Linked DNA regions of Homo sapiens. The protein of the gene in region 1 interacts with the protein of each later gene in a pairwise test. Each region holds a gene or a part of one and is shown in the gene's direction. Other genes may lie near its edges.

Region 1 (3,754 bases):
TTAATAGAGTTGTCAGCTAATACATCATTAAAACTGCATTTTATGATAGAAAACTCAAAAGGAGTTCAGAGAATTGCATGGCTATATTTATCTATTCATATGACAACAGTTTCTTAGCACTTACATGTGTAAAAACAAAACATAGAAATAAAATTAACACTGAATCTTGATTCATTCTAGCAATAAGCAATATTTATTCATGGGTACATGAACCAATAGAAGAGAAAAATCAAAGTTTTAATAGGGCTTTATGGTTAATTTCAGTTTAGAAACATTTTTGTTGCAGAGGAGTATGAGATGGTGATCAATAAAATAATGAGTTTTTTAACTCATTTTTAATTTTAAAAAGCTCTGGCTACTTATTTGTATAAAAATACATTACTATAAAATTCTGTGGGGAAAGTGAAATGAAGTTGAGGAAAAATTGAGTTCCAGGGAAAAAATTTACAGCTATAAAAAAAATTTTTATATTTTAATTAGACTGTCCCAGTATTTATATTTCATTGGATATATTTAATAGTGACAGGTAGTTTAAAAAGCTGATATTTATAATATGCTGGAAATTACCTTTTGTAACTATTTAAATTATGAAAAGTTTTATAGACTTAAATGCATGAGGAAGTTCTTTTTTTTTTTTTAATTCAGAAGTGTGTGAACAAAAGAGCTAGAAGATGACTTGTGGTGATCAGAGACAGCTTCAAAAACAAGGGTGACATTTGGTCTGAGTTTGATGTATTTAAGAAAGTTGCCAGGAAAATAAGGGGATAAATGCCATCAAGTCAAAAATAAAGATTCCAGAGGGAAAAAGACTTGGCTTTTGTGGCGGGGGATGGGAGGGTGGGAGGCGTTGATAATTAAATTTAGATTGGATATGTTGGGGATATCTGGGGGACTTAATGAATTTGGAGCTCAGTTTACTTTGTGGTAAAATGAGGTGGAATGCTTATTCTTTAGAGGGGGGAGGAGAGGTCAGGAGACTGCAACAGACTGTAAGAGAATGTTATTAATAAAAATCGTGGAGATAGGGAGTTTAGATTTGGAAGAGACTTTAGCCATCACCTACATCAATTTTCTCTTTTTTACAGAGAACTTATCTGGCCCCCATATCCTTAAGGGTTTTGCTAGTGGAGAAGCTAAATTTGAAGCAGACGCATGGTCTTCTGTCTCTTGATAGAATTCTCAGAACGTATGATCGTATTTTAGAAGAGAACAGTTGAGGAAGTGATTTAAGGAAGAGGAAGTAGGTAGTGGCGTCATGTCACTGTGTCATTGCAGTGTGACAACTGGAACATTATTTAAGTAATTTAACCTAATAGTATCTTCAAAATGGAATTTCTGTTTTGATATTAATAACTTTTTTCATTTTCACCTAGGCTGAGTTGCCTAGTCACGTATTTTCCTTATCGCATCTGTGGGTCAATCTAACCATGCAAATATTTTTGTTTTGTATCATTTTATAGGATTTAATGTTTATCTGTTAACCCTACTTTCATATATTAGCCCTCCACATATAAACATGCACACATAAGGCAGAACATTAATATTTTGTGAGACTTTGACTAATAGCCATTATTCTGGAAGTTTTTCTTTTATAACTTCTTTCCATTTTTTGATGACTTAAAAAAATTTTTTTTACCATTAAAGAGTAGTCGTGTATAAGATAAAATTCATGAACATCTTGTTTATATGAAACATTCTCCAAGCCAAGTAGGAAATGTAAGATTATATTCCAAAATTCTCATATAACCTTTCCTCCTTTTTTTCCTCAGGTGTTTGGATTTATAGCAAGTTTTATGTTCCTACTTGACTTTATCACTATGCTGTATGAAAAACGACAGGAGTCCCAGCTGAGAAAACCTGAAAATACCACTAGGGCTGAAGCCCTCACTGAGCCACTTAATGCCTAAAGACTCTGGGGAGCAGATGTTACCTAAGGTAGTGACCCTGCATTGTGGTGCCTGAGCCCTGGCAGAAGCTCTTGTAAAATTTGTTAATTGTTTAAACCACTTCTTTTGGAGAGCAAGGGGAAGGTCAAGAAGGCAGTTTTATCAATATTGTGTCAGTCACCACAAAGTAGGCCAGATAAGTTAAAAAAAATTTTTTTTTAAATAATAATTGAAACTTATCTCAAATGGAGATTTTGGTGGGAGGAGGAGAAAACAATTGTTTTTAAATCACACAGCTCAACGGTTGATAAATGATTCTGTCATTCTGTTACAGGTCATTCTTTTACTAGGCTTAGCTTCCAAATTATGCTTTATAGCTGTATAAACATCGTGATTATATTCATCTACTTAGAAATTGTTTTATTTTTAAATTAATTTGCTTAGCTGTTTGTTTTGATGCTTAGATTATGTTCTGTTAATGGGAATTTAACATATTTAAGAAACCAATATTTAAAATGTTGGTCTAGGTTTTTTTCCTTAACATATATTACCAGGCTTTACTGTATTTCACTCAGCCTTAAATGTTATAATATTTTTGGATAACGGTTATTAATTCTTTGAGACCTTCGTATAGCCTATAAAATGTATGGGAGATGTTGGTATTTTATGTGTATAAAAGCAACAATATCAGCAACTTCGTGTTTATACTGCACCTTGGTTGTTGATGTCAAGTAAAAAAAAGATTGTTTTGTAACACATAAAAAAATGGAAGAAACTGATACCACACCTAAGGACCAAAGATAAGAAAGACTTTTTGCCCAAGACAGTGAAAGTAATTATAAAAACAAGCTTTGACCACTTACCAAGTATCTGAAGAGATGAGTTCATACTATGATTTAGAAAGTGGTTCAATTCCCCTGTTGGCATATGATTATTTTTACTAAAATTAATACAGCTCTGTGGGTCTTCCTTAGTGTTTTCTTTGAAGCCAATCTGTTTTTTTTAGGACACCAGCCTTTGGTTTTTCATCTGTTCGAGATGCCTCTTCTCTGTCTCCTTATCAGATAGAAATGGAGTCATGTGCTGCTGCTTCATCTAGCAGAGGTTGGCCTCTGGCTCTGACACTTTTTGTCAGTTGTCTTTAGGTGGTCCTGAATCTTGGGCCCTTTTGATTGTGAATACTGTGTAGCAGGATCTTGAGAGTCCTTGTTCTTACATAGGCATTGCTCTAGTTTGTCTTTGGCAAAAAAAAAAAAAAAAAAAAGTAAATATCCAGGGAACCCTGCCCAGACTAATACTGTTGGTGGCATAAGAGAATCAAGCCATTCTCAAGAGATAACTTCATAACCAGAATTGTCTGTTGGCTAGCAGCTGTCACAGATAGGCAGGGCACTTGGGATATGACCTTTCTGTCCAGGTGATTCACAGACTAGACCTTTCTTATCCTCCTCCTAGAGTTTTGACTTGGGACTCTAGTGTTAAGATGATGAGCCCGTGCATCAGGTCCTTCTGCACTTTGGTGGAAGTCTCCCAGGGTAGGTTTCCTATTTGAAACAGTGGAATCATGTTTCCAGTGATAAAGTTTAATGACCTCATCCTTTTTTTTTTTTCTCATCTGCCATTTGTGTGTCTTAGATGGGTTTTAATTGCATGAATGTGGCTAATGTGGTTCTCAGAAATTGGTCAGTATGGCCCAACATAGCTTCTGCTCTGTCTTACTGACTCAATACCTTTAGGATTTGTATCAGAGTTTGGATACTAGTGTTAGTGGTGGTGTCACCACTACTTAATTGGGAGATAATGAAACCAATCATGGATGCTGTTTTTATTGGGCATGTCATCTAAGAGAGGAGAAATAGCTGGGTTTT
Region 2 (3,754 bases), on another chromosome or scaffold:
TCAAATAATGTATAGGGAAATATCGTTTTCACATCTACTTAAAATTGCACTCTGATATTTTTTAGTTTTTTTTGTTGTTGTTTGTTTTTTTGTTTGTTTGTTTTTGAGATGGAGTCTCGCTCTGTCGCCCAGGCTGGAGTGCAGTGGCACGATCTCAGCTCACTGCAAGCTCTGCCTCCCAGGTTCACGCCATTCTCCTGCCTCAGCCTCCCGAATAGCTGGGACTACAGGCGCCCGCCACCATGCCTGGCTAATTTTTTATGTTTTTAGTAGAGACGGGGTTTCACCGTGTTCACCAGTATGGTCTCGATCTCCTGACCTCGTGATCCGCCCGCCTCAGCCTCCCAAAGTGCTGGGATTACAGGCATGAGCCACTGTGCCCAGCTATTTTTTAGTTTTTCTGATGTTATCTTAGTAATTACTCAGCATTCATGCAACAATTTCTTGTATACATTAGCTACTTTACAAATCCTTCCCGTCCAGATAATGCACTAAATAATGCTCATTATTTTTGGTGATTTTTATTGCTGTTCTAATTGTTAGAATGCCAAGACAGCCCCCATTCAGTTTGTGCTCTGGCACATCAGCTGCTTATTGTCAAATATCTGAGTGCTTACTGTGTGCCACACACTGAGGATCCAGGAGTGAGCAAAGTCAACAGGGTCCACCCCTTACAGAGCGTACTTAGACCTCATCACCTTCAAAAGATAAGAAAGTGATGGGGCTGGGAGAGAACTTAGAAAGTTAACTGGAAGGTGACCTAGTGGTCCTTTTGAGGGAAGCTCAACTTCCAGCAAGGCTGTCCCAGTGGTAATAAGCATCAGAAGGTAGTTTGCACCTCATCTAAGTAATTTTCGTCATAGGTTTACAGAAATTAGTGTTTGCCCTCCATGATGGCTCTTAACAGTTGAAATTAATGGAATAAATATAAACTAAAGATCATATATAGAAATCCGTAAAGATCTGACCAGTCACAGTGGCTCACACCTGTAATCCCAGCACTTTGGGAGGCAGAGGTAAGAGCATTGCTTGAGTCCAGGAGTTCTAGACCAGCCTGGGCAACAGAGCAAGATCCTGTCTCTACAGAAAAAAAATTTTCTTTTTTGAGATGGGAGTCTCGCTCTGTTGCCCAGGCTGGAGTGCAGTGGCACGTTCTCACTGCAGCCTCTGCCCCCCAGGTTCAAGTGATTCTCCTGCCTCAGCCTCCCAAGTAGCTGGGATTACAGGCGCTGGCCACCGCCCCTGGCTAATTTTTGTATTTTTAGTAGAGACGGGGTTTCACCATCTTGGCCAGGCTGGTCTTGAACTCCTGACCTTGTGATCACCCACCTTGGCCTCCCAAAGTTCTGGATTACAGGCATGAGCCATTGCGCCTGGCTCAGTAAATTTTTTTTTTTGGAGACGGAGTCTGGCTCTGTCGCCCAGGCTGGAGTGCCATGGCACGATCTTGGCTCACTGCAAGCTCCATCTCCTGGGTTCACGCCATTCTCCTGCCTCAGCCTCCCGAGTAGCTGGGACTACAGGCGCCCGCCACCAAGCCCGGCTAATTTTTAGTATTTTTAGTGGAGACGGGGTTTCACCGTGTTAGCCAGGATGGTCTCAATCTCCTGACCTCGTGATCTGCCCACCTTGGCCTCCCAAAGTGCTGGGATTACAGGCATGAGCCACCGTGCCTGGCCCCGGCTCCCCCAGCTCAGTAAATTTTTAAAAAATTAGTCAGGCCTGGTGGTACGAGCCCGTAGTCCCAGCTACTCGGGAGGCCAAGGTAGAAGGATCACTTGATAGGAGTTTGAGGCTACAGTGAGCTATGATCACAATACTGCACTTCAGCCTGGGCAACAGAGTGAGACCCTGTCTCTAAAAGTTTTTTTTTAAATTTTTTAATTAAAAAATAAAAAGAGGCCAGGAGTGGCTCACGCCTGTGATCCCAGCACTGTGGGAGGCTGAGGTGGGTGGATCACTTGAGGCCAGGAGTTCACCACCAGTCTGGCCAACATTGCAAAAGCTCATCTTTACTAAAAATACAGAAGTTAGCCGGGCGTGGTGGCATGTGCCTGTAGTCGCAGCTACTCGAAAGGCTGAGGCATGAGAATTGCTTGAGCCCGGGAGGCAGAGGTTGCACCCAGCCGAGATCATGCCACTGTACTTCCAGCATGGGTAACTGACTGAGACTCTGTCTCAAAAAATAATAACAATAATAAATTTAAAAAATAAATCTATAAATATCAATTTGCCTTGAATTAGCCAAGTTGAATCTAATAGTAGCAAATTTGGGGAGGTGCAATAGCTTTCATATTGGTATTTTGAAATCTGTTTTGAAATATCAATCGATAAAAACATAATATCAACCAGAAGGAAAGAATACTTCTCTTAATATTCAGTTTTCCAAAAGAAATAGTTTAATCCTTGGAAATAGGGCCAATTAGAGAAAAAAAACAATCTTGGACTCATCAGAATGTCTATCTCAGTAAAGGTATTTTGAAATATCTCTTATAATTATCCTAAATCCTCAAATAAAAGTTTAATTATATGAAGCCATAACTCTTTGGAAGCTTGGGAAAGTGTGTGTAAAAACTAGATGCTGAGCTCTTTGGAGGAGGGGATTAGGACTTTTTATTTCTAGATCCCAAGCTAATACAAAGCTTTAATGTTGAATGAATATTTGCCATGTGTAGTCTTGGAAGTTTAAATTATAAGGTCTTTGTGTTTTACAGCTTTTGGCTGATGCCTGCATTTATGCTCAAAAAAATAGTTCTTGGAAATTTTTCATCTGGCCCGGTGGACCCTATGATGGCTGATGCCATTGATTTCATGGTAGACAGGGTAAGGATCATGACATTGGGTTGGGGACACATTGTATTGGGAATTTTCACATCTACTTGGTTCCAGAAGATAGATCTGTCTCACAAGTATGTGTAAGAGGTATTTGCTAAGCAGAGTAATACATCTGAGCAGATATTATTGCTGGTAAGGGCTTGCCTACATCAGTGCTTCCCACCAGCTATTCATCAAAATCACTTAGGGGAGCTTTCAAAAATACAGATTGTAAGGCCTCACAGCAGATCATCCATCTGGAATCCCTGGGCATGGGATCTGGGAATCTATTTTTACTTCACACTTTTCCTCTACCCACCAGGTAAATCTGATGAACCAGGTCTGTTGGCTTGCATTTAGGAACTGCTGGGCTAGATGATTTCTCAAATCTCTTTTAAGATCCCTTAAAGGTTTATCTTAAAAAAAAAAAAAAAACAAAAACATATATCTGTCACCTTTGAGCAGTAGGAATTGGCTTGCTGCCCATGGGCACCTGGCTGGAGTAGGCAGTGTAGGCTGAGGGCTGTAGAAGGCCGGGTTTCATTGGTTTGTACCCAGGTTTCCAGAATAGAAAAATGCCACAACCTCCTGAGAAGCCCAGTTCATGGTCTCTCACCTAAGTTGTGGTTCCTCACTGATGACTTTTCTGGCCCCACCACAGATGATACCACCTTTATAAGCACAAATGTTGTCTGTGGATTTAATGTAAATGTGAAAAACAAAATTATTTCAAAAACTTTACCTGTGTTTCTTCCTGCAGCTAGAAAGTTTGGGTCAGAGTGAACTGGCTTCAAGACTTACCTTGAATTGTCAAAATTCTTATGTGGAACCTCATAAAATTCGGGACATACCTGTAACTATTATGGATGTAAGCTTCCTTTTAAGTAAAATAGCTGCTTTACTTTTTAAAATGTGTATGTCAAGATCTCCTATAAAACTA

The links. Proteins that work in one complex are often made in the same cells at the same time.
Region 2: the proteins of CMTM6 (region 1) and SPG21 interact in binary tests that used the Homo sapiens proteins (3 or more experiments, as listed by UniProt).

The regions. Positions count from the first base shown.
Region 1 is NC_000003.12:32,482,113-32,485,866, reverse strand, and holds part of CMTM6 (CKLF-like MARVEL transmembrane domain-containing protein 6), read left to right. Parts: intron 1-1,769; coding exon 1,770-1,907; 3' UTR 1,908-3,754. UniProt on the Homo sapiens protein: Master regulator of recycling and plasma membrane expression of PD-L1/CD274, an immune inhibitory ligand critical for immune tolerance to self and antitumor immunity.
Region 2 is NC_000015.10:64,969,183-64,972,936, reverse strand, and holds part of SPG21 (maspardin), read left to right. Parts: intron 1-2,714; coding exon 2,715-2,823; intron 2,824-3,574; coding exon 3,575-3,682; intron 3,683-3,754. UniProt on the Homo sapiens protein: May play a role as a negative regulatory factor in CD4-dependent T-cell activation.